4 linked regions of the Homo sapiens genome follow. The protein of the gene in region 1 purifies or fractionates together with the protein of each later gene. This does not show direct contact. Each region holds a gene or a part of one and is shown in the gene's direction. Other genes may lie near its edges. The genes, in order: OSBPL9, VAPB, KBTBD6 and WRAP73.

What was found.
Region 2: the proteins of OSBPL9 (region 1) and VAPB purify together in Homo sapiens (affinity purification with mass spectrometry; 9 studies listed by BioGRID and IntAct, with this or other methods). This does not show direct contact.
Region 3: the proteins of OSBPL9 (region 1) and KBTBD6 purify together in Homo sapiens (co-immunoprecipitation; 2 studies listed by BioGRID and IntAct, with this or other methods). This does not show direct contact.
Region 4: the proteins of OSBPL9 (region 1) and WRAP73 purify together in Homo sapiens (affinity purification with mass spectrometry; 4 studies listed by BioGRID and IntAct, with this or other methods). This does not show direct contact.

Annotation. Positions count from the first base shown.
Region 1 is NC_000001.11:51,620,090-51,627,124, forward strand, and holds part of OSBPL9 (oxysterol-binding protein-related protein 9), read left to right. Parts: intron 1-2,382; exon of another isoform or gene 2,383-2,455; intron 2,456-7,035. UniProt on the Homo sapiens protein: Interacts with OSBPL11 to function as lipid transfer proteins.
Region 2 is NC_000020.11:58,448,203-58,451,610, forward strand, and holds the end of VAPB (vesicle-associated membrane protein-associated protein B/C), read left to right. Parts: 3' UTR 1-2,899; downstream 2,900-3,408. UniProt on the Homo sapiens protein: Endoplasmic reticulum (ER)-anchored protein that mediates the formation of contact sites between the ER and endosomes via interaction with FFAT motif-containing proteins such as STARD3 or WDR44.
Region 3 is NC_000013.11:41,129,772-41,137,450, reverse strand, and holds the start of KBTBD6 (kelch repeat and BTB domain-containing protein 6), read left to right. Parts: upstream 1-4,648; 5' UTR 4,649-4,939; coding exon 4,940-6,964; 3' UTR 6,965-7,679. UniProt on the Homo sapiens protein: As part of the CUL3(KBTBD6/7) E3 ubiquitin ligase complex functions as a substrate adapter for the RAC1 guanine exchange factor (GEF) TIAM1, mediating its 'Lys-48' ubiquitination and proteasomal degradation.
Region 4 is NC_000001.11:3,640,080-3,647,114, reverse strand, and holds part of WRAP73 (WD repeat-containing protein WRAP73), read left to right. Parts: intron 1-332; coding exon 333-449; intron 450-7,035.

The DNA of each region.
Region 1 (7,035 bases):
GTTGTGAACTGAATAGATTTACACAAGCCTCACCTTAGTTGAATTTTTATTAGATGAAATGGCCAGGGAGAACTAAGGATATAAATTTAGGAACACTATGTGAGCAACCAATTGTTTATGTGGCTTATGATCACAAAAGAAGATATGGAAGGAAGGAAATTGGGGGAGTTATAGATCTATGAGGAATTGGAAGTTTAGAAAGAGGAGTTTGTGCCTTTTGTTAATTTATGAAAGGTTACTGAGTACCTATTGTGTGCCTGGCACTTTGTTAGGAAGTGGGGTTAAAGTGGCAAATAAGATGGAAATTGTTCATCCTCTCATGGTACCTATAATATGTTGGGGGACATACCAGATAAGAGCTGTGATAGAGGAAGCACAGGGGGATACATAGGTGGGCTACTTGACTCAGTCTTGAAGGGTTAGGAAAGGTTTCCTTGGAGAAGCAGGTTTGTTTTGACTTGAATGATGAGGAGAGATTAGCCGTATGAGCAGAGAGGGAAAAGTGCTTGAGACAAAGGGAATAAAAGTTTTTTGGAGGAGAGAAGAGTAAGCAGCTTGTCAGTTCTGGAGGTTGGGCTGTGAGGTAGGTAGTAGTGAGAGATGAACTGGGGAGCTAAGCAGGAGGACAGATAATGAAAGGCTTTCTTGGCAAACCATGTTAAGGAATTTGAACTTTATCCCCAGGGCAGTGGAGAGCTATTTCAGTGTTGTAAGCACTTTTTATTATTATTGAAAAATCTTTTATTATAGAAATTTAAAAAAATAAATCTATTTTATTTATTCATTTATTTTGATAAGACTGGTTAATTTTGTATTTTTGGTAGAGACGGGGTTTCACCATGTTGCTGAGGCTGGCCTCGAACTTCAGGGCTCAAGCATTCACTTGCCTCGGCCTCCCAGAATGTTAGGATTACAGGCGTGAGCCCCTGTGCCCAGCCTATTATAGAAAATTTTTAACATTCATAAAACTAAAGAGGACGGTAAAATGAATTCATTTCATCCAGCTTATACAAGTATCAACATATGGCCAGTCTTGTTTTATTAGTACTCCCATTAACTCCTTCCTCCTCTATTGAATTATTTTTAGAGCAGATCCCAGATTATTATTTCTTGTGAATATTTCAGTATGTGGCCAGGCATGGTGGCTCACGCCTGTAATCCCAGCACCTTGGGAGGCCGAGGCGGGGAGATCACCTGAGGTCAGGAATTCAAGACTAGCCTGGCCAACACTATCTCTGCTAAAAATACAAAAATTTGCCCTGCTGTGGCCAGCGCCAGTAATCCCAGCTACTTGGGAGGCCAAGAATTCAGCCTCTCCCTTCAAGGAGAATCACTTGAACCAGGAAGTGGAGTTTGCAGTGAGCCGAGATGGTCCCACTGCACTCCAGCCTGGGCGACAAAGCAAGACTCCGTCTCAAAAAAAAAAAAAAAAGAAAGTTAAGGTCCCTCTATTTTCAAAAGAATGTTATCAAAACACTTTTATTACAGCTAAATAGTAGTATTTATTAATATCAAATATCCAGTCTGTTCAATTTCCTAGAATGTCGCAAACATTTCTTCCTTACCAGTTGGTTTGAGTCAGAATTCCAAACAAGATCTGCATATAAAATTATAGAGTCTCTTTTAATCTCTAGTTCTCCCTCTCTTTTTCTTGGCCATTTATTTGTCTAAGACACCAGGTCATTTACTCTGTAGAATTTTCTGCATTTTGGATTTTGTTGGAAGCATCATTTTGGTATGTTTAAACAGGTTCCTTTGTCCTCTGTATTTCCTATATAAATTGATAATTTGAGCTGAAAGCTTAATCAAATTTATTTTTTTTCTTTTGGGCAAGAATATAGGTGGAACCTATCAAATCAAGAGGCATATGATGTTAGCTTGTCTCTCTATGATGTTAAAATTGATCAGTAGGTTCAGGTGAAATGTGTGTTTTTTTTTTTATTTTAAAGAATATGGTTGCGGAGAAGTAATCAGGAGGTTGCTTTTGATGGGATTTAGTGATTGGATGTGAGTGAAAGGGGAAGAGTCTGAAGACATCCAGGTTTTCAGCTTGAGCTGGTTGAATGATAAAAAGGAAGATAGGAAGAACAGGTTGGGGGAGAGAAGTGGTTGCTTTGGGGCATGTTGAAATTGACATAAAGATGTGTTACAGTCTGGAGCTTGGGACAAAAATCTGGGCTGCATATCCTCTTATCAGTCAGTAAAACATAAAATAAATCTGGGCTGCAGATAAATATTAGTTTTTCATATATGGAGAGTTGAGAGAGTGAGTAGAATAGAGATCTTTGGATAGGACTCTGGAAAATACCACTGGATTTAGTTATCTATTGCGTTATGACAGATTACTCCAAAATGTAGCAATTTAAAACAACAGTTTGTTACCTCATAGTTTTCGTGGGTCAGAACTTTGAGTTCTGGCTCAGGGTCTCTTATGAAGTTGTAGTCAATATATTAGCCAGTGCTGCAGTCATCTGAAAGGCTTGACTGGAGCAGGAAGATCAGCTTCCACGATGACTCACATGGCTGTTGTCAGAAAGTGGCAGTTCCTTGCTGGCTGTTGGAAGGTGGCCTCATTCCTCACCAGGTAGCCTCTCCATTGAGCTGCTTAAGTGTCATCATGACAGAGCAGCTGGCTGTGATCCAAGTGAGAGCAAAGAGGAAGCCTCAATCCCTTTTATGACCTAGTCAGAGACCACCACTTCTGCCTTATTCTGTTCATTAGAGACAAGCCATTAAATTCCACTCATGCTCCTGGGGATGGGAATTTCAGACATGAGGAGGGAAATTAGGCTTTATCTTTTGAAAAGAATTTGTGGACAAATTTTAAACCACCACAATCACAATTTAAGGGATTGGCAGAGGAAAAAAGCTTGCACAGGAGAGTGAAAAGGGATGCCAGAGATGTAAGAGAAAAACTAGAAGAATGTGGCAGTCATGGATGGCAAGGTGGAAGTAGTAAATTGGCTTGAATACTGCTGAAAGGATTAAATAGATGAGATCTAAAGCATATCCATTGGATTGATGAACATCATTGATGTTCTTAGGCAGAGCAGTTTCCATGGAGTGGTAGGTATGGAATGCAGGTTGGAGTGGCTTGAAGAGTAAAGAGGAGGCAGGAAATATATGAAGCGAATGGAGGTTATTCAAGATGTTTCATTGTAGAAAGGGCAAAGAGGACATGGAATGTGGAATGGAGGGGAACAGTTTCTAAAATAGGAATATGCTTAAATGGTGTAGGGATGGGAAGCAAGGTCAATGTTAAAAATGAGGATACAGTCAGGACGCAAGGAGTATAGTAAAGATTTAGGACAATGACAGTGGGAACTGGAAAAAGGAATAGCTAAGGAATAGCTAAATATGATTTGTTTAGTCATTACCCACAAATGTTTAACCCTCTTTCTTGATTTGTATTGCTTTTGGAGAGAGGGTTAGAAACTGAATTAGTAAGTTACCTGGGCTACTCAAGATATTCCTTGTAAAAGGAGTCGTTAGAGAAATCATATGTTCTTTGCTGTTACACACTGTCTGGAAGAGACTTGTAATGACTTTGCATTTTAAAACCACTGCTAGTCAAAACACATTTAAGTGTTATTTGGCAGTCTTTAGCAATGTTTAGTAGATGATAAAAAAATCTACCATCTAATTATTAGATTTTAGATTTTTGAATAGCTTAAATGTATATATTTCTCTTGCAAACATGTAAAAGTAGTCTCAGATTCTCCTGGAAAGGTATCAGCACCACTCCCATCAAACATTTAAAAGCAAATTTATTCTTTTCTAAGTAAACCATTCTTGAATATATCAAATATGATTTTTATTGAGCTTATATATGGTACTTTTTTTTTTTTGTCGGAGTCTCGCTCTGTCACCCAGGTTGGAGTGCAGTGGCACGATCTCCACTCACTACCACCTCCACCTCCTGGGTAGAAGCAATTCTCCTGTCTCAGCCACCCGAGTAGCTGGGATTAAGGCACCCACCACCAGGCCTGGCTAATTTTTGTATTTTTAGTAGAGACGAGGTTTCACCATGTTGACCAGGCTGATCTTGAACTCCTGACCTCAGATCATCCACCTGCCTCAGCCTCCCAAAGTGCTGAGATTACAGGTGTGAGCCACCTTGCCTGGCTATATGGTACATTTTAGTAGTCCAAATCTAATAGAGTAGCTTTAGAATTATAAAAGGAACAAAAGAAAAATTGTATCTAAATCTAAATGGGCTGGGTGCAGTGGCTCATGCCTGTAATCCCCCAGCACTTTGGGAGTCGAGGCAGGTGGGTCACTTGAGGTCAGGAGTTCAAGACAAGCCTGACCAACATGGTAAAACCCCGTCTGTACTAAAAATACAAAAATTAGCCGGGCATGGTGGTACACCTCTGTAATCCCAGCTACTTGGGAGGCTGAGGCAGGAGAATCGCTTGAACCCGGAAGGCAAAACCCGTGAGCTGAGATCACGCCACTGCACTCTAGCCTGGGTGACAGAGTGAGACTCTGTCTCAAAAAATAAATAAATAAATAAATAAAAATAAAAATAAATCCAAACACCCTGAAAAGACATAAAGAAACTCTCTAAGATAGTGAGTAGTATCAGTGGGAAGAATTATTTGGAAATTTTTTATCTTTTACTTTCCTTGAATACTTTAGACAGTCTTGATTTTTCCCTTTTCTAAAACTCCTGAGCCTAGCTCATATACTTCTTTTGGGCATTAATCATCTTACATCTGCTACAATTAACTAAATGTATCTCTAGTACATTCTTTATCTGTACAGCAAGCTTGTAAACTCCATGATGGCAGTACTGAACATCATAATAATCTTCAAGCCTGACAATGAGGCATATTATTCTCCTTGTGAATAGAATATGAATGGCCCTTCTAATTCGAATTATAGGTGAGTGAGGCAGAAGGCTGTTTGGAATTCTTGTTTACACAGCCTTGTAAGTTTTACAGAATATACTAATAGCAAATATGTATGTTTCCACAGTTTATGTAAAACCTGATTGGGTTTATATTAACAACAGAGGTTTTTTGTTTAGTCATCCAGAGCCTGTGGAACTGTGTGCCATCTTTGCTTCCTGTGTTGTAGCAGACAAGCAGTCAATTCTTGCTTCTGTTGCAAGCAGTTTTCTTGATGGTGATAATTTGTAGAAAGATGTAGAGTTGTTCTTAAATATGCCACTCCAAAAGTGGCAATTGTATGATTAGATTTTCTTTTTTTAAAATGTAATTTAATTTATTTTAAACTAATCTAGACCATGCCAGTTGGAAGGATTAGATTTTCAAATAGGTAATCCCGATCAAAACTAGAACAGTGTACAAGTGATTTAGATTAAGGATTGAATTTCTTTTACTGTTTATAGAGAAATACAGACAAAGAAATGGCCACCCCAATCAATTGTTTCCTTCTCATTTATTTAATTGTAAAGGATTATCTTCTTCTTCTTTTTTTTTTTTTAATGGGGTACTGCTCTGTCATCCAGGCTGGAGTGCAGTGGCATGATTTTGGCTCACCGCAACGTCCAGCACCAAGACTCAAAATCCTCCCACCTCACCTCAGCCTCCTGAGTAGCTGGGACCATAGGCATGCGCCACCACACTGGCTAACTTTTTGTATTTTTGGTAGAGATGGGGTTTCACCATGTTGGCCAGGCTGGTCTCAAACTCCTGAGCTTAAGCAATCCACCCTCCTCGGCCTCCCAAAGTGCTGTGATTATAATTGTGAGCCACTGCATTCAGCCCAGGATTATTTTAAAAATGGAATTTACTTGCAGAAGTTAAGTTTACATGTTACATGGGATGATATAAATGGAATTATATTCAAGGAAAGTATTTCCAGGTATTCATAATTAATTTTTTTCTATTCACATGACAATGTTAAAATTATTGTAAAAGTTGATTGTCTATTTCTTGGAGTTTTGTTCCATTGAGGCCCCATGATAAGATTGTCTACTTATTTCTTGTATTTTATCTTAGTATTGTTATGGCACAGCTGGGTGAAAATACACTGGATAAAAATGTGATCTGTCGTTCTGGCAGCTATCTTTTGTCTCTCAATCCTCTTCTTTCCTCCATCACTCATAGGAGATGCCATGCTTACCAGAGACAATAGTCCATTTGGTGGGAACACTCTCAACTCCTTGTTCTCCCACCTATTTTGATATATCTATTTTCCTCTTTATACTTGCTTTTACCTTTCCCTATCATAGAAGAGGTAATCCTGTGTTCTGGATTCCATTTGCTCACAAACTTTTCGGGGATCTCAGTCTATAGATTTTCTCCTCTATCTGCTTTCTCTCCTCTCTCTATTTAACTTCTTCCTCACTACAGATTTTTCTTATTTAAGAATATTATTATTATTATTATGCAGTATAACAAACAGTTGTAATCATTTTATACAGACATTTTTAGATAGCCTGTTGCTTTTTATTCTTTTTTTTCCCCCTTACAACCAGATCTCACTCTGTCACCCAGGCTGGAGTACAGTGTGCTATCACAGCTCACTGCAGCCTCGACCTCCCAGGCTTAAGCAATCCTCCTGCCTCAGTCTTCTGAGTAGTTGGGATTGCAGGCATGTGCCACCACACGAGCTAATTTTTGTTTTGCTTTTTTTTTTTGGTAGAGTTAGGGTCCCACTGTGTTGCCCAGGCTAGTCTTGAACTCCTGGACTCAAGTGATACTCCCGCTTTGGCCTTCCAAAGTGCTGGGATTACAAGTGTGAGCCATGACACCTGGCCATCTTTAATTTTGATGATGTCCAGTTTATTTGTTCTTCTGCTGCTGCTTATGCTTTTGGTGTCGTATCTGAGAAATCATTGCTTAATCTAAAGTCACAAAGTTTCATATCTATGTTTACTTCTAAGAGTTGTTTATTTTAGCTATAATGGGTAGGTCTGATCCATTTTTGTTGTTGGTCATGGTTTTTTTGTTTGTTTATTTTGAGACAAGGTCTTTCTCTGTTGTCCATCCTGGAGTGCAGTGGCACAATCATAGCTTATAGCAGCCTCAAACTCCCAGGCCAAGTGATCCTACCACCTCAGCC
Region 2 (3,408 bases), on another chromosome or scaffold:
CTAGTTCATGACATACAAATCCCATAAGGCCAACGACCACTCTTCTGGAACACCAAGAGCAGCTCTGAGATCATGCTGGCCCTACGCGAATTGAGTTTCTGTGGCCTAATTGGATTTGGAGAACGCCTTCCCTGGCCCCTTTTCCTCAGACAGATCTGCTCTGATAGGAACCTTTTCAAGAAAGTTACTGTTGTTTCAATGCCACTCCTTACCTGTATAGAACATTTCCAATACATTCGCTCATTGAACTTAATCCTTGCAACTGTGACTGGGGGGTAGATGGCTCTGTTTGCATACGAAGAAATAAAGGCTCCAGGAGGTTAAATCGGGCAACTTTTTAGAACTAAATCAGTCTCTGTAAGGCCTACATTGCTAAGATACCATTTCAGCTCTGAAAATCTGCTTCAGGGAAGTGAGTGGATGAGGCCTTCCTGCCTCAGCTACTCTGCCCGTCTGTACATCTTTTGTGTCTGCCTCCGTACCTTATTCAGTTATTTTCACACTAAAGTAAGTAGAATTAAGACTGTAGTTCAGATGCTTTTTCTTTTTCTGTTGGAAACTGAACACACTACAGACAGTGAAAAAAGGTACATATTCCATTTTCTCATTGCCTGAAGATCTCTGCTGATGCTCCTGGAGAATGACTTTGGGGGCTTTAGAAAGAATATTGCCAGTCCGTCTCGGCAAGGAGATGATGGGAGCGCTTTATATGGAGGCTTTACATGACTTGTAAATTAAATGTGAATGAGGGCAGTTGATTAAAATTGGTATTACAGAAGGGCCCTGCTGAGGTTTGAAAACAGCTGAGCTGCTGATGTCTCAGGCCTTTCCCTGAATTAGCACTGCGGTTCTCCAGGATATCAGCAAAGAGGGCAAGTAATAGAAGCCCCTGATAAGGAGCGTCAGCCGACAGGCAAGCTTGGGAGGCTGTGGGAATGGGTCTGCCCCCAGCTTCACAGACCTCTTCCTCCAGCCTCTGAATCCCATTAGCCACAGCCTAGAACATTAGCTGAGCTGCACAAGCTCACCCACCCCTGTGCCAGGGGGCCCTGACCTCCCTCCATGCCATGTTTTTGGCTGTATCTACGGCACTTAACAATAGGGGCTTTTTATTTTCATTACAGAGATATTTTGAAAAATTTAAAAGACATGAACTCACATAAACAGTTATGGATGATAGTTAAAAGAGAAACGGGTGGAGGTGGATGAGAGGTTGTCTTCATGAATATAATTACTTGAGATTTTTTTTTCTTAATGGAATTAGTTTATTAGAAAATGTCTGTGTTAAATCCGTAGAAAAGGAAGAAAAGTGTAGCAACAAAAATGTAGCCATTATCTAACTTGCCATAAATATTTGCAGTTATGATACCTTGGAATGTTGCCACGATATGGATTGCTTTGATTAAAAGATGTCAGTTGAATAAAACAGTACTGTGGGAGAATCGCTTTCTGCTGCTAGATAAATGCTGATGTTTATTTTTAAACCAGGAAACATTGATCCTGTAACAATGCCCGATTACAATTGCTTTATTACACCCCAGGGCTGATGGAGATGTAATCACTTGGCTAATGGATGTGGGTGCAGGACAGATGCTCGCTTGCTGGCCTGCTTTCCTGCTTGCATTCTGATGAGCTGCAGGAGTGCGCCTGGCCTTCTGCAGGTGGAGCTGCTGTCAGAGCTTCGTTTCACTGATACCCAAAGCCATGTCTGACTGAAATAAAACAGGTTCCCTTTTTTTTTCCCTTTGGAAAATGCCAACTAAGGGAGACTAATCAGATATCTTAACACAATTTCATCCAGGCTTAGTGCTAACAAGATTGCGGGGCTTTTTAGGGTTTAAGAAGATGAGAAATGAGTGTGCACGTTTCACACGTTGACTTGCCGGTTTTTCCATGTCATACAAAAAAGTCCTGGCTGTTTCTCCGAACTGGCTGCCTGCATTCCCGTCTTTCTTTTGTTTTTAAGAAATAGACTGAATTCAGCTGTTAATCCTCTAGTACAGTATCCATGTTAAAATGTTTTTCCATTGCATCTTTTATGTGAATTCAAAGGTCAGAATTTATTGTCTGTGATATTGAGACCATGTGTACAAGAACTACTTTTTGCTTTTCATCATTCACTCCTTAGCAAACGTTTCGTAAGTACCCTCTGTCTGTTTGCTACTATATGAGGTGCTGCGAAATTAGTGGGCGTGGCTTTTTATATTTTTCATTCGTGTGTAGCCTAAGTAAGGTGACTCAAGATGATACACCGAGAGAAAAATGCAAAATATATTTGGTTCTCATTTCTGTTGCTGTCGTTTCCTTTTTAAAGACGATTTATCAACTGCTGCCATTTGGAACTTCCTATAAGAAACTAAAAATGATCTATTTCAGTGTTCCTTTCGCCTTTCCTCTGCTTTCTGAATAAATGGTTTCAGTAACCCATGCTGTTCTCTCCCTATTCTACGTCTTTCTCCCTATGTTGAAAAAAGATTCCCACAGTTTCTGATGTGTGTGTTTATAGTCTTCAATGTATGTTAACATGTTAGGAACTGAGTATCTTAAGAGATGTCTTAGAATGCTTTAGTTTTCATAATTTGTCCTTTATGTATTTTTCATTGTATTTGCTGTTTTGACATGGAAGTAATTTAAAAAGTTGGTGCAGGAAAGGACTCTTTACTGTTGCACATTTTGGTTTTCTGATATGTAATAAATTCATGGCTTGGCAGCTGACATGATGTTTCCCAGAGAGAAGGAGATGTATTTCTGCAGGGTCCAGACCAAAAGAGCCATTTACAGCATGTTCTCCCATGTTCCATTATCAGCCTGATGAAACCTGCCCTGCCAAGGCATAAACTTTTGTACTAGCTGTCTCCATATTATGTTCAATAAATTCTGTGCTCTGAATATATTTAAAGGATGCTTCAGTGTAAAATTATTTTGAATGGATGGCTTAATTCCATTGAGATAGGCTTTGGAGTGTGGACTAGAGCCCGTTGCTCGACTCTCACTGCTTTGTAGGAACATGAAATTGGTTTAAATTAAAATCAGAGACCTTTTGCACCAGAAAACAGATCTAAGAGATCACTTAGGTCAACGTCTTCATTTTACTGATGAGGAAACTTTTGCCCAGAGAGCTTAAGCACAGGGACCAGCTTGCATGTCAGTGTTTTCCTATTGGGGGAAGTGTGTGTCATCAGTGATTTACAAAGGTACCCACCTGTGTAAATTGCTTCCAGCTTTGAAAGGTGGGTGGATTCTGTCTTTTAAGTAGTGGTTGACAGTTCTCCATCTTACAGTGTTACCTTGTTAAAACGTTAATGAAAACAATTTTAACTTCTTTTGGAAAAGTAAGGTGGGCAAATGGTAAGACTTCACACAAGACCAAGGGGTACACAGTATACAAAATCAGGTTTCCTCCATTCC
Region 3 (7,679 bases), on another chromosome or scaffold:
AGGGAGGTCATCAGTGAGTCTTATGGTAGGCATGAGAAAAAGTAGACAGAAAGTCATCTACGTCATACAGGAAGGATGGTTCACTGTGTAAGCCATTTCCCAGAGCACAAAAGAGTTGGGAGATTTAGGAAAACAAAACTTTGTGGAATTTCTTAATTCCATGATCTTGATCTCCACGGGTAAAATTGTCAGTTCAGATTGAAATTCTGTCTGGGAAGTCAGTTGGAAGCAGAGTCACCCTTTGGTCTACCAGATCATGATACATTGTTGAATAATAATTTGTGAAGACAAATAGCTGTGTAGTAGTATTTAAGACTAGGCATGATGTACTGCCCAACTGCAAGGTATAAGACTACAAACAGGAAAATAATTAGTGTATTAGGCCATTCTTTCATTGCTATAAAGAAATACCCGAGACTGGGTAATTTATAAAGAAAAGAGGTTTAATTGGCTCACGGTTCTGCAGGCTTTACAGGAAGCATGGTACTGGTACCTGCTCAGTTTCTAGGGAAGCCTCAGGAAGCTTACAATCATGGTGGAAGGTGAAGAGGAAGCAGGCATGTCACATGGTGAAAGCGGAAGCAAGAGAGGGAAGAAGAGAGAGAGAGAGAGAGAGAGAGAATGGGTGGAGGAGGTACCACATATTTTTAAACGATCAGATCTTGCGGGAACTCAAAGCGGGAGCTCACTTATCACCAAGTGGACAGACAGCACAAGTCATTCATGAGGGATCCGCCCCCGTGATCCAAACACCTCCCACCAGGCCCCACCTCCAACACTGGGGATCACACTTCAACATGAGATTTGAGCGAGGACAAATATCCAAACTATGTCAATTAGTAATGTTTGTAATACAGCTCAAAACCGGGTCTTCTATTTCTAAATCTTGCCCAGGGGAACATGCCTCAGGCTATTTGAATTTACCTTAGAAAGCCAACTAGCCTTTTCCTTGAGTTTAGTAACTAAGCATTCACTTGTCCTGTTGTGTTTATTCAAGTGCAAAAAGAGATTTTGGCTATGGCACAGATATCTCCTTGTCTAGCTAGAAGGAAGTTGAAAGTTGTAGGATTGGCCATAACAATTTGGACCTGTGCGTTTAAACTTATTTTCTGTACTTCTAGGGCCAAAGTGGTATAATTTTCTTCTACAAAGGTTAAGGAGAGGCTTGAACTACCTTTTCTTTTTTTTTTGAACTATCCTTTTTAACTGTATTAATGCCATAGTGGGTGTCAAGGGCCCTCATGGTGCATATGAAAAGAGAATCATTGATATCCCTGGGAGGTTTTCCCCAATTCCCTGTAGTTGCCTCAATTTGGAGGTAATTCCAGAAGGACACACCATTGACAGGTGGGATAGCAGCTTTAAATATTTTGAAGTCCCAGACAATCAGTCCAAATGCCCTTGGGGAAGGCATGAAAAGTGGTATCCTATGGGGAAACAGGTGGGGTCTGAGGTATAGTAATTATTAACAATTACTGGGATTAACAACTGGGTAGATCCCTCAGAAGAGCAGAGTCTTTGTGTGGAACTGAACGCAGTTTGTAAGGCTGGTTGGGAAGTGGTGGAAGAGAAAATGGTTATTATTAGGGATAAAAGTGCTCCTACATTTTTTCCTACACTTGATCCTGAAAAAGTGGAGTCATTGAGTTTGGAGATTTCAAGAGACTCATTAATCATGTTAAGAATTAAGTTTCATTTAGTACATGCTGAGAAATTGGGGATAATAGAAGAGTCAAGGGCCATTAGGCATGAGACTCTGGGCAGGTTGAGTTCCTTAAAGAGTTTGGCTAGTTTGAATATAACGGTACCACTGGCCTGCTTGTTTCATTTTCCAGAGGACTGGTAAGGAGACTGCAGTTTTTGTAACATTGGAAGTACTTGTTGAAGATCCTGAATAACCTTACTACTGAAGTGAGTTCCTCCACTGTTATTAAAAAAAACAGAGATCCCTAGGAGGGGAAAATTCTTTCTGGTATCAGGTTAACTTCAGTGGTGATAGTAGCTTGTTTACAGAGAAAAGCTTTTAACCATGCTGAAAACATGCCAACTATGGTTAAAACATATTTGTACCCATAAGACTTTGAGAGTTGATATATTTTCCAATGAAAACAAGGACTAGAGAGAGTTGACTCTCATGCTTGTCCCACTTTACATGTTGACTAGGATTGTGTTTCTGGCAGATGGGGCAAGTTGAAGTTAACTGCTCAGTATTAGGGCATCCCCAACAATATTTGCGGAGAAAGATTTTCTTTGCCATAATGTGTAATCTCATGGAGGCTGCAGAATAAATTTTGGGTGAGGGACCAAGAGAAATCAATGATGTCTAGGTGTCTCCAAAGCCCATCTGAGTAGAAAAAACATCCAGCTTGTTGCTTTTTTGCTTTTTCAGCCTCAGGTGCTAGCAGCTGTTATATCTTAAGTTTCTTAAGAGTTTCTGTCTTTAGAGTAGGTTGAGCAAGGAGAAGTATACACGTGATTCAGGAGGTGTTTTCTTGGGAAGCAGCAACCTTAGCATATTTTCAGCCAGTTAAGTTTCCTTTAGCTTTGTTAGTCCAGCCACTAGTGTGAGCTTTGATTTTTGAGAATGGCTAATTTCTGGATAGCTGTAAGGACTTAAACAGGGGGGCTGGGCGCGGTGGCTCACGCTTGTAATCCCAGCACTTTGGGAGGCCGAGGCGGGTGGATTACCTGAGGTCAGGATTTTGAGACCAGCCTGGCCAACGTGGCGAAACCCCATCTCAACTAAAAGTAAAAAAAAAAAAAAAAAAATTAGCCGGTCATGGTGGTGGGTGTCTGTAATCCTAGCTACTCAGGAGGCTGAGGCAGGAGAATCGCTTGAACCCGGGAGGCGGAGGTTGCAGTGAGCCAAGACCGCGCCACTGCAACTCCAGCCTGGGTGACAAGAGCGAGACTCCATCTCAAAAAAAAAAAAAAAAGACTTAAATAAGTTAGTGAGTTGGGTTCTGAGTGGTACTCCTCAGTTGTCATAAACCTCTTTCTTTCCATAGCATACCAAAATAACGTGCAATTCCAAAAGTAAACTGGCTGTCTCTATAAATGTTAGTTCCCTTATCTTGTGCTAACATGCAAGTTTGGGTGAGTGCTTAAGAATTCAATGATTTGGGCCATGTTAACTTAAGTGGAGATTTCAACTTAATAGGCTGTTGAAAATCTGCAATAGTGTATCCTGCTTAAAATTCCCCATTTGTACTCCTGAGGTAAGAACCATCTACAAAGGTGATATCAAGGTCTCTGAGAGGAGTTCTGGTGATGTCAGAGTGAGGAAATGTGAATGACTGTGTGACGGTGATTCAGTCACAAGGTTGTCCTTCAGAGGGAATGGGAAGAAGAGTGGCTTGATTGTTTTGACTACGGTGGACAGTGATGAGAGAGGAAGACAGTGGCAGGGTTTCACAGGAGGTGAGTCCGAAGCGGAAACGTGTTAGGTGTTCTCAGTGACTTCTAATGTCTGAACTGCACGGGGTAAGTAAAGGTTGAGTGAATGACTAGAAATAAAGTCAGCTCTGATGGAGAGGCAACTTCATACAAGCAAGGGGAGAAATGCTTGAGCCACTGGGTCTAAAAGGATGCTAAATTACCAACCAGGCCTCTGGCTTCCATTGTGTTTTGGGGTGAGGACCCCCTAAAGCATGTCTCTTCTTTTGTGTAAAAAAGGGAAAGGGGTACTGAATATTGGAGAGACCAAGTGGGAGAAGTGGCTACAGAGGACTTCAGGTTTTGAAATGCAGATATGGAAGGAAAGTCTCAAAGTCAGGTGACTGGAGGTGGTCTCCTTTTAGTCATGGCAAATAAGGACAGGCAATTGTGAAAAAGCCAGGGATCTAATTCCAGCGATAGCCAACCAATCCTACAAACCCTGAGTTATCTTTTGGTACCAGGGAGAGGCATAGTGAGTAAAAAAAAAAAAAAAAAAAAAATCACTTCTAATGGATACATACACTAATACAAGATGTTAATAATAAGGGAACTGTGAAGTGGGGAGAGATATATGGAAGTTCCCTGTCCCTGCTGCTCAATTTTTCCGTAAACCTAAAAATAAAATCTAATTTACACACACACACACACACGCCCCTAAAAAGGGATCTCTGCTGGAACTTGCAAGGTTTTCTGTTTTGGGGGGTTTTTTGTTTTCCTACAGGCTCATAATTTCAAATTAGTGGTGCTTCCTTTTTTTTTTTTTAATAAAGGCTGGAAGAAAACTTATCGAACCTTTATAATTCTAAGAACTGAGTAATTATTCTACAAACCAACAAATATTTATTAACAGCGTCCTATAACCAACTCATGTAATCTTCACACAATCCTATGAAATACTACTGTTCACGTCTTACAAAAGAAGAAACAGTTCAAAGAGACAAGTCAAACAATACATACTAGAACGAGGCGACTACTCTGGATTCCAAAACCACAGTTCCAAACCACAAAATCGAATCTAGGAAAATTGGCGCTCTCGAGTGTCGTCAGCTAAAACAAGGAACACCAGAGAAGGATCGCGATATTACACAAACTACTACTCCCGACATGCAAAGCGGATTCTTTCCCTCGGTCTCGGCCCGGGAGTCCGAGAGTCCCAGCAGCCCTCGGGGCGCGAAAGGCAACCTGGGAGCGGTAGTTCTCCTGGGCGCCTAGCATTGTCGCCCACGCTGCAGTAGCGGCTTCTGCGGCTCCAAGCCAGCGGGTCCTGTGAAGGCGAGCAGACGCGGAGAAAGGACGCGGGAGTGAGAGAGGGTGAGTCAGCCACTGTCTAAACGATAACGGGAGGCGGTTCTGCGGGGTAGGGTTGAATTCAGTAAATGGGCTCGTGCTGCTGTCTCTTCGGAGACGCTGCTATCTTAGCGTCAGCGAGGGAAGGTTGAGGAGGAGCCAGAGCCGGGTCCTGCAGCGTTTCTCGCCATCAGCGCCCGTCGCCATCTCCACCATGCAGTCCCGGGAAGACGCCCCGCGCTCTCGCCGCCTAGCCAGTCCCCGTGGTGGGAAGCGGCCCAAGAAGATTCACAAACCCACAGTTTCGGCCTTTTTCACGGGTCCAGAGGAATTAAAGGACACGGCCCATTCTGCAGCCCTGCTGGCACAGCTCAAGTCCTTCTACGATGCGCGGCTGCTGTGTGATGTGACCATCGAGGTGGTGACGCCTGGCAGCGGGCCTGGCACGGGTCGCCTGTTCCCCTGCAACCGCAATGTGCTGGCCGCGGCATGTCCCTACTTCAAGAGCATGTTCACAGGTGGCATGTACGAGAGCCAGCAGGCCAGCGTGACCATGCACGATGTGGACGCCGAGTCCTTCGAGGTGTTGGTCGACTACTGCTACACGGGTCGTGTGTCTCTCAGTGAGGCCAACGTGGAGCGCCTGTACGCGGCCTCCGACATGCTACAGCTGGAATATGTGCGGGAAGCCTGTGCCTCCTTCTTAGCCCGACGTCTTGACCTGACCAACTGCACCGCCATCCTCAAGTTTGCAGATGCCTTTGGCCATCGCAAGCTGCGATCCCAGGCCCAGTCCTATATAGCTCAGAACTTCAAGCAACTCAGCCACATGGGTTCAATTCGGGAGGAGACTCTAGCAGATCTGACCCTGGCCCAGCTGCTGGCTGTCCTGCGCTTGGATAGTCTGGACGTGGAGAGTGAGCAGACAGTGTGCCATGTGGCAGTGCAGTGGCTGGAGGCTGCTCCCAAAGAGCGGGGTCCCAGTGCTGCAGAAGTCTTCAAGTGCGTGCGCTGGATGCACTTCACTGAAGAAGATCAGGACTACTTAGAAGGGCTGCTGACCAAGCCCATCGTGAAGAAGTACTGCCTGGACGTTATTGAAGGGGCCCTGCAGATGCGCTATGGTGACCTGTTGTACAAGTCTCTGGTGCCAGTGCCAAACAGCAGCAGCAGCAGTAGCAGCAGCAACTCTCTTGTATCTGCAGCAGAAAATCCACCCCAGAGACTGGGTATGTGTGCCAAGGAGATGGTGATCTTCTTTGGACACCCCAGAGATCCCTTTCTCTGCTGTGATCCATACTCGGGGGACCTTTACAAAGTGCCGTCACCTTTGACCTGTCTGGCTCACACTAGGACTGTCACCACTTTAGCTGTCTGTATCTCTCCTGACCATGACATCTATCTAGCTGCTCAGCCCAGGACAGACCTCTGGGTGTATAAACCAGCTCAGAATAGTTGGCAGCAACTTGCAGATCGCTTGCTGTGTCGTGAGGGCATGGATGTGGCATATCTCAATGGCTATATCTACATTTTGGGGGGGCGAGACCCTATTACTGGAGTTAAGTTGAAGGAAGTGGAATGCTACAATGTTAAGAGAAACCAGTGGGCATTGGTGGCTCCACTGCCCCATTCTTTTTTATCCTTTGACCTAATGGTAATTCGAGACTATCTCTATGCTCTCAACAGTAAGCGCATGTTCTGTTATGATCCTAGCCACAATATGTGGCTGAAGTGCGTTTCTCTGAAGCGCAATGACTTTCAGGAAGCCTGCGTCTTCAATGAGGAGATCTATTGTATCTGTGATATCCCAGTCATGAAGGTCTACAACCCAGTTAGGGCAGAATGGAGGCAAATGAATAATATTCCCTTGGTCTCAGAGACCAACAACTACAGAATTATCAAGCATGGCCAAAAATTGTTGCTCATCACCTCTCGCACCCCACAGTGGAAAAAGAACCGGGTGACTGTGTATGAATATGATATTAGGGGAGACCAATGGATTAATATAGGTACCACATTAGGCCTCTTGCAGTTTGATTCTAACTTTTTTTGCCTCTCTGCTCGTGTTTATCCTTCCTGCCTTGAACCTGGTCAGAGTTTCCTCACTGAAGAAGAAGAAATACCAAGTGAGTCTAGCACTGAATGGGACTTAGGTGGATTCAGTGAGCCAGACTCTGAGTCAGGAAGTTCAAGTTCTCTTTCTGATGATGATTTTTGGGTGCGTGTAGCGCCTCAGTGAAATGCACAGGATCAACAGGGTTTGTTGTAACTAGATTGAAACACTAAGTTGTTTTTACTGTTTTGGAAAATATCTTAAATATCCTTTTTGTTCCTAAAGGAGAGGAAAAGTTGATTAACTTCTGGTTTGGTTTAGAAAAAGTAATGTTTGAAATACGAAGGTAATTTAATGTTACAAATTTTAACACTCAAATCAACCTTTTAATAATTTTCTGTGCTAAGGGTCCAGTATTTATTTGATTATTTAGTATGTTTATGTTTCATGACACTAATTTAGTCTTTTGATACATTTTACATTCTGTTTACTGCCACAAGCACTGTGGCAATAACTTTTGAATTTTAATTTTTATAATAGAAAAATGATTAGGAATTGCTAGATAGTGTTTTGAAAGCATATCTTTTTCTTCAGAACAATGTAGACTTCCAAAATGGTTAACCTAAGGGGTCTTTACAAAATGTGTTATAAGTTAAACATAATTTGGGAAGTTTTACTTTTGTTTTCTTCTATGAAGAAAAAAATGCAGGCTGGGCGCGGTGGCTCACGCCTGTAATCCTAGCACTTTGGGAGGCCGAGGCAGGTGGATCACCTGAGGTCAGTTCAAGACCAGCCTGGCCAACATGGTGAAACCCCGTCTCTACTAAAAATACAAAAATTAGCTGGGCGTGGTGGCATGCGCCTGTAATCCCAGCTACCCAGGAGGCTGAGGCAGGAGAAT
Region 4 (7,035 bases), about 48 Mb from region 1:
AAAGCTTAACTAAATGAGGTCTTAGGAATGACAATGTGAATAAACAGTTTTAAAACAACAACGAAATGAAATCACCAAGAAGCGTGGCTTACTTTTACACTGGAATCCAGCACCAGCCCTTCATCATGAAAGGTTCTAAAAGACACCCTGTGTGATCGGGTCTCTGCTGGTTTTAAGGGAGTTGTCTCTCGGCGAGGCCTCGCTATAGACTGCTGATGAGTTTGAAGACACCCTGTGCGGTCGGGTCTCCGCTGCGTTTAAGCGAGCTGTCCTCGCTGTCTCTCGGTGCTGATGAGTTTGCACTTGTGTGTTTCTTTCTTCTCTCAATCCAGGTCTGGTCTTTAGAGCAGCCCGAATGGCACTGCAAAATAGACGAGGGCTCAGCCGGGCTGGTGGCCTCGTGCTGGAGCCCGGACGGGCGCCACATTCTCAACACCACGGAATTCCATGTAAGTGTCAGCCCCAAGACACCTTACTGGCCATGTGATCCTGTCCTCTGCTCTCGAAACAGCTGGGGAGTGCGAGAGGGGGTGTGTTTGGAGTATGCTAGTCTCCCCTTATCCTCAGGGGATGCATTCTAAGACCACCAGGGGATTCAGATTGTACCAAACCCTGTATTTCCTGTGTTTTTTCCTATACAGCATACCTGTGATACATTTAATTTATAAATTAGATACAGTAAGAGATTAGCAACAATCATAGTATAGAACAAGGATAACAATATACTGTTTATAATTGCATGGATAGAAGATTTGGTCTTACTGAAGATCTGAGCAACAACCTCAGCATAGGATTTTTTCTTTCCTTGTTGCGTCAAGAACTTTCAGCTCGTCATTTAAAGGAAGCACTTTGTGGCTTCTCTTTGGCGTATCCAGATTGCGAGCCCCACCGCCCGTGCTTTGGGCTGCTACTGAGTCAGATAAGGGTGTCGTGAACACAGGCACTGTCTGCTGCCCTGGGTCTGATGACTGAGGTGGCTCCCGAGTGGCTGGTAGATTGGCGGGGTTGGAGGGAGCCGGGGAGCGTATATAGTGGTGTGTATATTTTAGGTCAGAGCATTATAAGCCACTAAGTATTATTGTCTGATCTTTTGTCCAGTTTTGAAGAAAAAACATTTTAAAAATCTTAATTTAGATTTTTTAGGATTTCGGCACTCCCTTTAATTCAACGATAGAAAATGCGCTGTGATATGAGCCGGCTCGCACCTTTCCTTCAGGAGCCTGGCCTGGGGGCGTGGCTCGGGGCGGTCGGCAGCCGCCCATTCACCTGCTGTAGGTACCGCACAACAGCCTCCGTGCTGAGCTCAGCGCGGAGGGGAATGTTGACATCCGAGAATAAATCAGAGGGATCTGGGATAGGAGACTGCATTTTAAGTTAAAATTAGGCATATGTCAAGTGTTTAGATACCAGGTCTTTGGTGTCCGCAGTGTCTTTTTAAGATACAGAAAAATGGACGAATTCCTTTAATAATGTGCTTTTCTGATGGAGTTGGATCCCAGTGTTTGGGCCCAAGTCCACTGAGTGCTCATAGCTGTCTGGGCTGCTGGCTGCACCTCGGTAACCCGCCCATCCCGCTGCGCCGCGCACACCACGGGGCAACCCGCCCATCCCGCTGCGCCGCGCACACCACGGGGCAACCCGCCCGTCCCGCTGCACGGCGCACACCACGGGGCAACCCGCCCGTCCCGCTGCGCCGCGCACACCACGGGGCAACCCGCCCGTCCCGCTGCGCCACGCACACCACGGGGCAACCCGCCCATCCCGCTGCGCCGCTCACACCACACTGCAGCCCTCCCGTCCCGCTGCGCCGCGCACACCACGTAGATGATGGCACCTGGGAGGATTTCTCCCAGCGTGTGGCTGCAGATGCTCTGTAGGGTTTCATTCGGCTTTTTTCAAGCTGGCATCGGCTGGGATAAAGTTTTATCCAGCCATGAGGGTTGCTGAATCAACTGCTTCAGATGGCTGGATGGCTTTACATATTTTTCAGTTTCGATTTTAAAAAATACTCCAAATCTAATGTCTGCTATTATGGGCTGTCAGAGAATAAGACAGGAAACAAAGGCCCACCAATGTCTCCGCACTATGTATTGACATTGGAAGGCACTTTCGGCCTGAGTGTTTCAGAGAGGATAATTTGAGCTTTTCACGCAGCCGTGTCTAACAGTCTTCAGGCCTGTAATGCTTTGGGCCCAAATCTGCCCTTGAGAAGGGCTCATGTCATGGGGTCAGCCTTGTTGTATTATCTTATTAAATGGCCCAGAAGGAAAACTACCATCTATAGAGTTTAGAAACCTTAAAAGATGGATAAAAGCCTGGTTTTGTTGAGCATCCCATGTCACACACACCAATATTGAAAACACCTTTGCTACAGAACAAACTGATTTTTCATAGAGTACATTTAGATGACATTGTTCAACCTAAGACTAAGGTCATGACCACTTTGCTGGTGGCCTTAGAGGAAACGTTAAGACCAGGTGGTGGATGAGGACCGGTAACCTCAAGGCATGGGGCATCTTGACCAAGATGTCAAAATGTGTCTCCAGCTTTGCATGCGAACTTTAATGGTTGCAAGTGAGGAAACAAAACCGGAATTCCAGACGTGCTGGCCAGGAAGTGAGCTGCGGGCACCGTCCATCAGTCTCATTCACAAGAGCAAGGACCAGACCCGTTCGAGGATTAGCGGGGCCACTAGGTCCCCTTCTGAAGGCGCGACCCCATGTCCGGGGCTCAGCGGGGCCACTGGATCCCCTTCCGAAGGCGCGACCCCATGTCCGGGGCTCAGCGGGGCCGCTGGGTCCCCTTCCGAAGGCGCGACCCCATGTCCGGGGCTCAGCGGGGCCGCTGGGTCCCCTTCCGAAGGCGCGACCCCATGTCCGGGGCTCAGCGGGGCCGCTGGGTCCCCTTCCGAAGGCGCGACCCCATGTCCGGGGCTCAGCGGGGCCGCTGGGTCCCCTTCCGAAGGCGCGACCCCATGTCCGGGGCTCAGCGGGGCCGCTGGGTCCCCTTCCGAAGGCGCGACCCCATGTCCGGGGCTCAGCGGGGCCGCTGGGTCCCCTTCCGAAGGCGCGACCCCATGTCCGGGGCTCAGCGGGGCCGCTGGGTCCCCTTCCGAAGGCGCGACCCCATGTCCGGGGCTCAGCGGGGCCGCTGGGTCCCCTTCCGAAGGCGCGACCCCATGTCCGGGGCTCAGCGGGGCCGCTGGGTCCCCTTCCGAAGGCGCGACCCCATGTCCGGGGCTCAGCGGGGCCGCTGGGTCCCCTTCCGAAGGCGCGACCCCATGTCCGGGGCTCAGCGGGGCCGCTGGGTCCCCTTCCGAAGGCGCGACCCCATGTCCGGGGCTCAGCGGGGCCGCTGGGTCCCCTTCCGAAGGCGCGACCCCATGTCCGGGGCTCAGCGGGGCCGCTGGGTCCCCTTCCGAAGGCGCGACCCCATGTCCGGGGCTCAGCGGGGCCGCTGGGTCCCCTTCCGAAGGCGCGACCCCATGTCCGGGGCTCAGCGGGGCCGCTGGGTCCCCTTCCGAAGGCGCGACCCCATTTCGGGGGTTAGTGGGGCCGCTGAGTCCACTTGCGAAGGCGCCACCCCACGTGAGGGTGCTGTGGAGCATGGGAGACGTCCCTGCCTCTTGCATTTTAACGTGAAAAGGCAAGCTTGCGCCCATTAGACGAGGTTCAGTGAGTCATCAAAAGCGGCTCACCCCTAGGCCTGCAGCGGAACACTGCCGCGCTTTCAGAGCCCTTCTCTTCCTCGTAGCAATGCCCTCCCCACCTGAGGGCACCTTTGCCCCACGTCTTGCGTGAATCACATCCTCACTGTTCTTGAGTCTCACTGTACAGATGTGTCTAAACACCACATTGCTTGCTGTGCAGTGTAAAGTTGATTTATAGGGGCTTGTACTTTGCAGTCTCTGCTGTTGCTGTTCCCCGTCACTGCTTTTAGACTCCTCCGTGTTGACAGGCATCGCTGGGCCTTCCCTTCCTCGTGAGGAACGCCATTCAGTCCTCGCCTGCTGGACGTGTGCGTCACCACGGACGGTGTGGCTGTGAACGTGTTGTCCCCGTCTCCTGGGCACATACCCGGAGAGCCTCTCTAGGAGAGCCTTGCTTGGCCGTAGCAGACGGAGGGGTTTCATTTGCCAAGGCTTTTGTGGCAGGATTACAATGATTCCATCCAGGCGACTAAATGATACTGCAGTTTGGATTTAGTTTGCGTTTCCCTAATTCTCGGTGAGGTTGAGTGCTTTCCTATCTTGTTTCATTACACACAGACGCTCACACATGCTCCATTTAAATGAAGCAGGTTCACGTAGTGGGGCACACTGTGGGGTCTGAATCCATTTCTACCTTTTCCCAGCAGCATTTTTTTTTTTTTTTTTTTGAGATGGAGTTTCGCTCTTGTCCCCCAGGCTGTAGTGCAATGGTGTGATCCAAGCTCACCGCAACCTACGCCTCCCAGGTTCAAGCGATTTTCCTGCCTCAGCCTCCCGAGTAGCTGGGATTACAGGCATGCGCCACCACGCCTGGCTAATTTTGTATTTTTAGTAGAGATGGGGTTTCTCATGTTGGTCAGGCTGGTCTCAAACTCTCGACCTCAGTTGATCTGCCTGCCTCGGCCTCCCAAAGTGCTGGGATTACAGGTGTGAGCCACCGTGCCCAGCTCCCAGCAGCATTTATTTAGAAGGCTATCTTCACCAGCTATAGCAGGAGCTCAGTTCCATTATACCTGCAGGATCACTTCTGGTTTCCATTCCAGTCCACTGTTGGTCCACCTATGTGCCAGCACCACACTGTCTACATTATTGAGGTTCTATGGTGTGTTTGAATATCTGATGGGACTGATTCCTCTTCATTGCTCTTGTAGTCTGTCAGATTTTTTAAAAACAATTTTTTTGTAGAGTTGGGGTCTCCCTTTGTTTCCCAGGCTGGTCTCGAGCTCCTAAACTCACGCAATCCTTCCTTCCCAGCCTCCTGTATAGCTGGCATTACAGGTGCACAACAGTGCGCCCGGCTCTGCCAGATTTTTAAATGTATTTTTGAGACTTTGTTGTTAGCTGCATACAAACTTTTAACTGTTTGTAAACAGATTTCCTAGTGAAGCGGTTCCCATGATTCCGCGGTGGCACAGGCCTTTTGTTGTAAAGTATTCCTCTTTATGTCTCACGGTTCTTTTTGTTTCAGAGTCTGATTTATCCCGTACGAATGCGGCAGTGCCACCTTTCTCTTGGTTAGGATTTTCTTGATATGTCTTTTTCTATCCTTTTACCTTCTACATTTCTGCATCCTTAAACTTGAGTGTGTATGTTGTAAATAGTCTATAGTTAGCTTTAAAAATATATCCAGACTGCAGACTTTTTCTTATATCTGAATAAAGGCAATTAAAACAATTTATAAGCAAGAGAATTCACCCACTTTAAGAGCACAGTTGAGTGAGTCACTTTGCACGTCATTGCCGCCACAATCAGGACCAAGACTGTTCGCCCGTGGCATGGGGCTCCTCGTGCCCCTTGTGCTCAGTCCGTCTCCCACCTGTGTCCGGCAGCCGGTGCCTGCTGCGGGGCGAGCAGCACTGCCTACTCGGAATCCCATCTGCACAGAGCCATGGTGCGTGGAGCTGTGCGTCTGCTTCCTTTTCCCTGGCATCTTGCTGGTTTTGAGTGTGCTGGGTTGTGGGGTGGATCAGTGGCCCGTTCCTCCATCTTGAGAGTGCTGGGTCATGGTGTGGAGAGAGTGCTGGGTCGTGGCATGGATCAGTGGCCTGTTCCTCCCGTCTTGAGTGTACTGGGTCATGGCTTGGATCCGTGGCCCATTCCTCTCACCCTGAGCATGCTGAGTTGTGGTGTGGATCGGTGGCCCGTTCCTTCCGTCTTCAGCACACTGGGTCGTAGCGTGGATCAGCGGCCCCTTCCTTCCCTCCTGAGTGCTCTGGGTCATGTGGATCCCTCTGGTCCTTTCTTCCTGCTGCTGAGTGCTGTGGAGCCCATCCCACGGGTCTCCTCCGCTGGCTTCTCCAGTGGTCAGTGGAAGGTAACAGCGCTGATGAAGGTGTATATTTAACTACCTTTTTTTCTTATTGGGTTTTTAAAAGTTGCAAAGTTATCTTTTAAAGGTTTTTGTTTCTTTGTTTTTGTGAGATGAAGGTAAAAATCAGGCTTAAAGTGCTCCCTGTGTTTCCTAAGATGTGCCTGAGTGGGGAGCCTCGGCCAGGCGCACCCCACAGGGATGCAGGGCCACAGGTGGGAGATGTGCTTTTCTCCTGTGACTCTGCAGTAGGCTCTGGAGGGCAGGTCTCTGCCCTGGGTGGCACATGGACTCTCCTGATGCTGAGAGGCTCGGGCGCTGCACCCCGCCCTGCTGATGCTGAGATGCTTGGGTGCTCCACCCCGCCCTGCTGATGCTGAGATGCTCCGTTGCTGCACCCTGCCCTGCTGATGCTGAGATGCTCGGGCGCTCCACCCTGCCCTGCTGATGCTCAGAGCCTCGGGCGCTCCACCCCGCCCTGCTGACGCTCAGAGCCTGGGGCGTTCCACCCTGCCCTGCTGATGCTCAGAGCCTCGGGCGCTGCACCCCGCCCTGCTGATGCTCAGAGCCTCGGGCGCTGCACCCCGCCCTGCTGATGCTCAGAGCCTCGGGTGTTCCACCCTGCCCTGCTGATGCTCAGAGCCTCGGGCGCTCCACCCCGCCCTGCTGATGCTGAGATGCTCGGGCGCTCCACCCCGCCCTGCTGATGCTCAGAGCCTCAGGCGCTGCACCCACCCTGCTGAGTCTGAGAGGCTTGGGCAAGGTTTCAGCCTCAGACACGCTGGTGGGAAGTAGCACGCTTCCTCGCTCAGGCCCCAGCGCCCTCCTTGGCCTCAGCTTGTGGAGCTGTTAGAGGAGCAAGTGCTCTGTGCAGCTGGAGTTCCGAGGCATGGTCCCCAGAACGGCCAGTGTGTTTCGGGTTCAGCATCAGCACAGGAGCCCTTCCGTGCTGCCACGTGACCCCTGGAGCTCGTTGATCCACTACCTGTGTGTTCAGGACTTCTCTCCTGAACGCTGT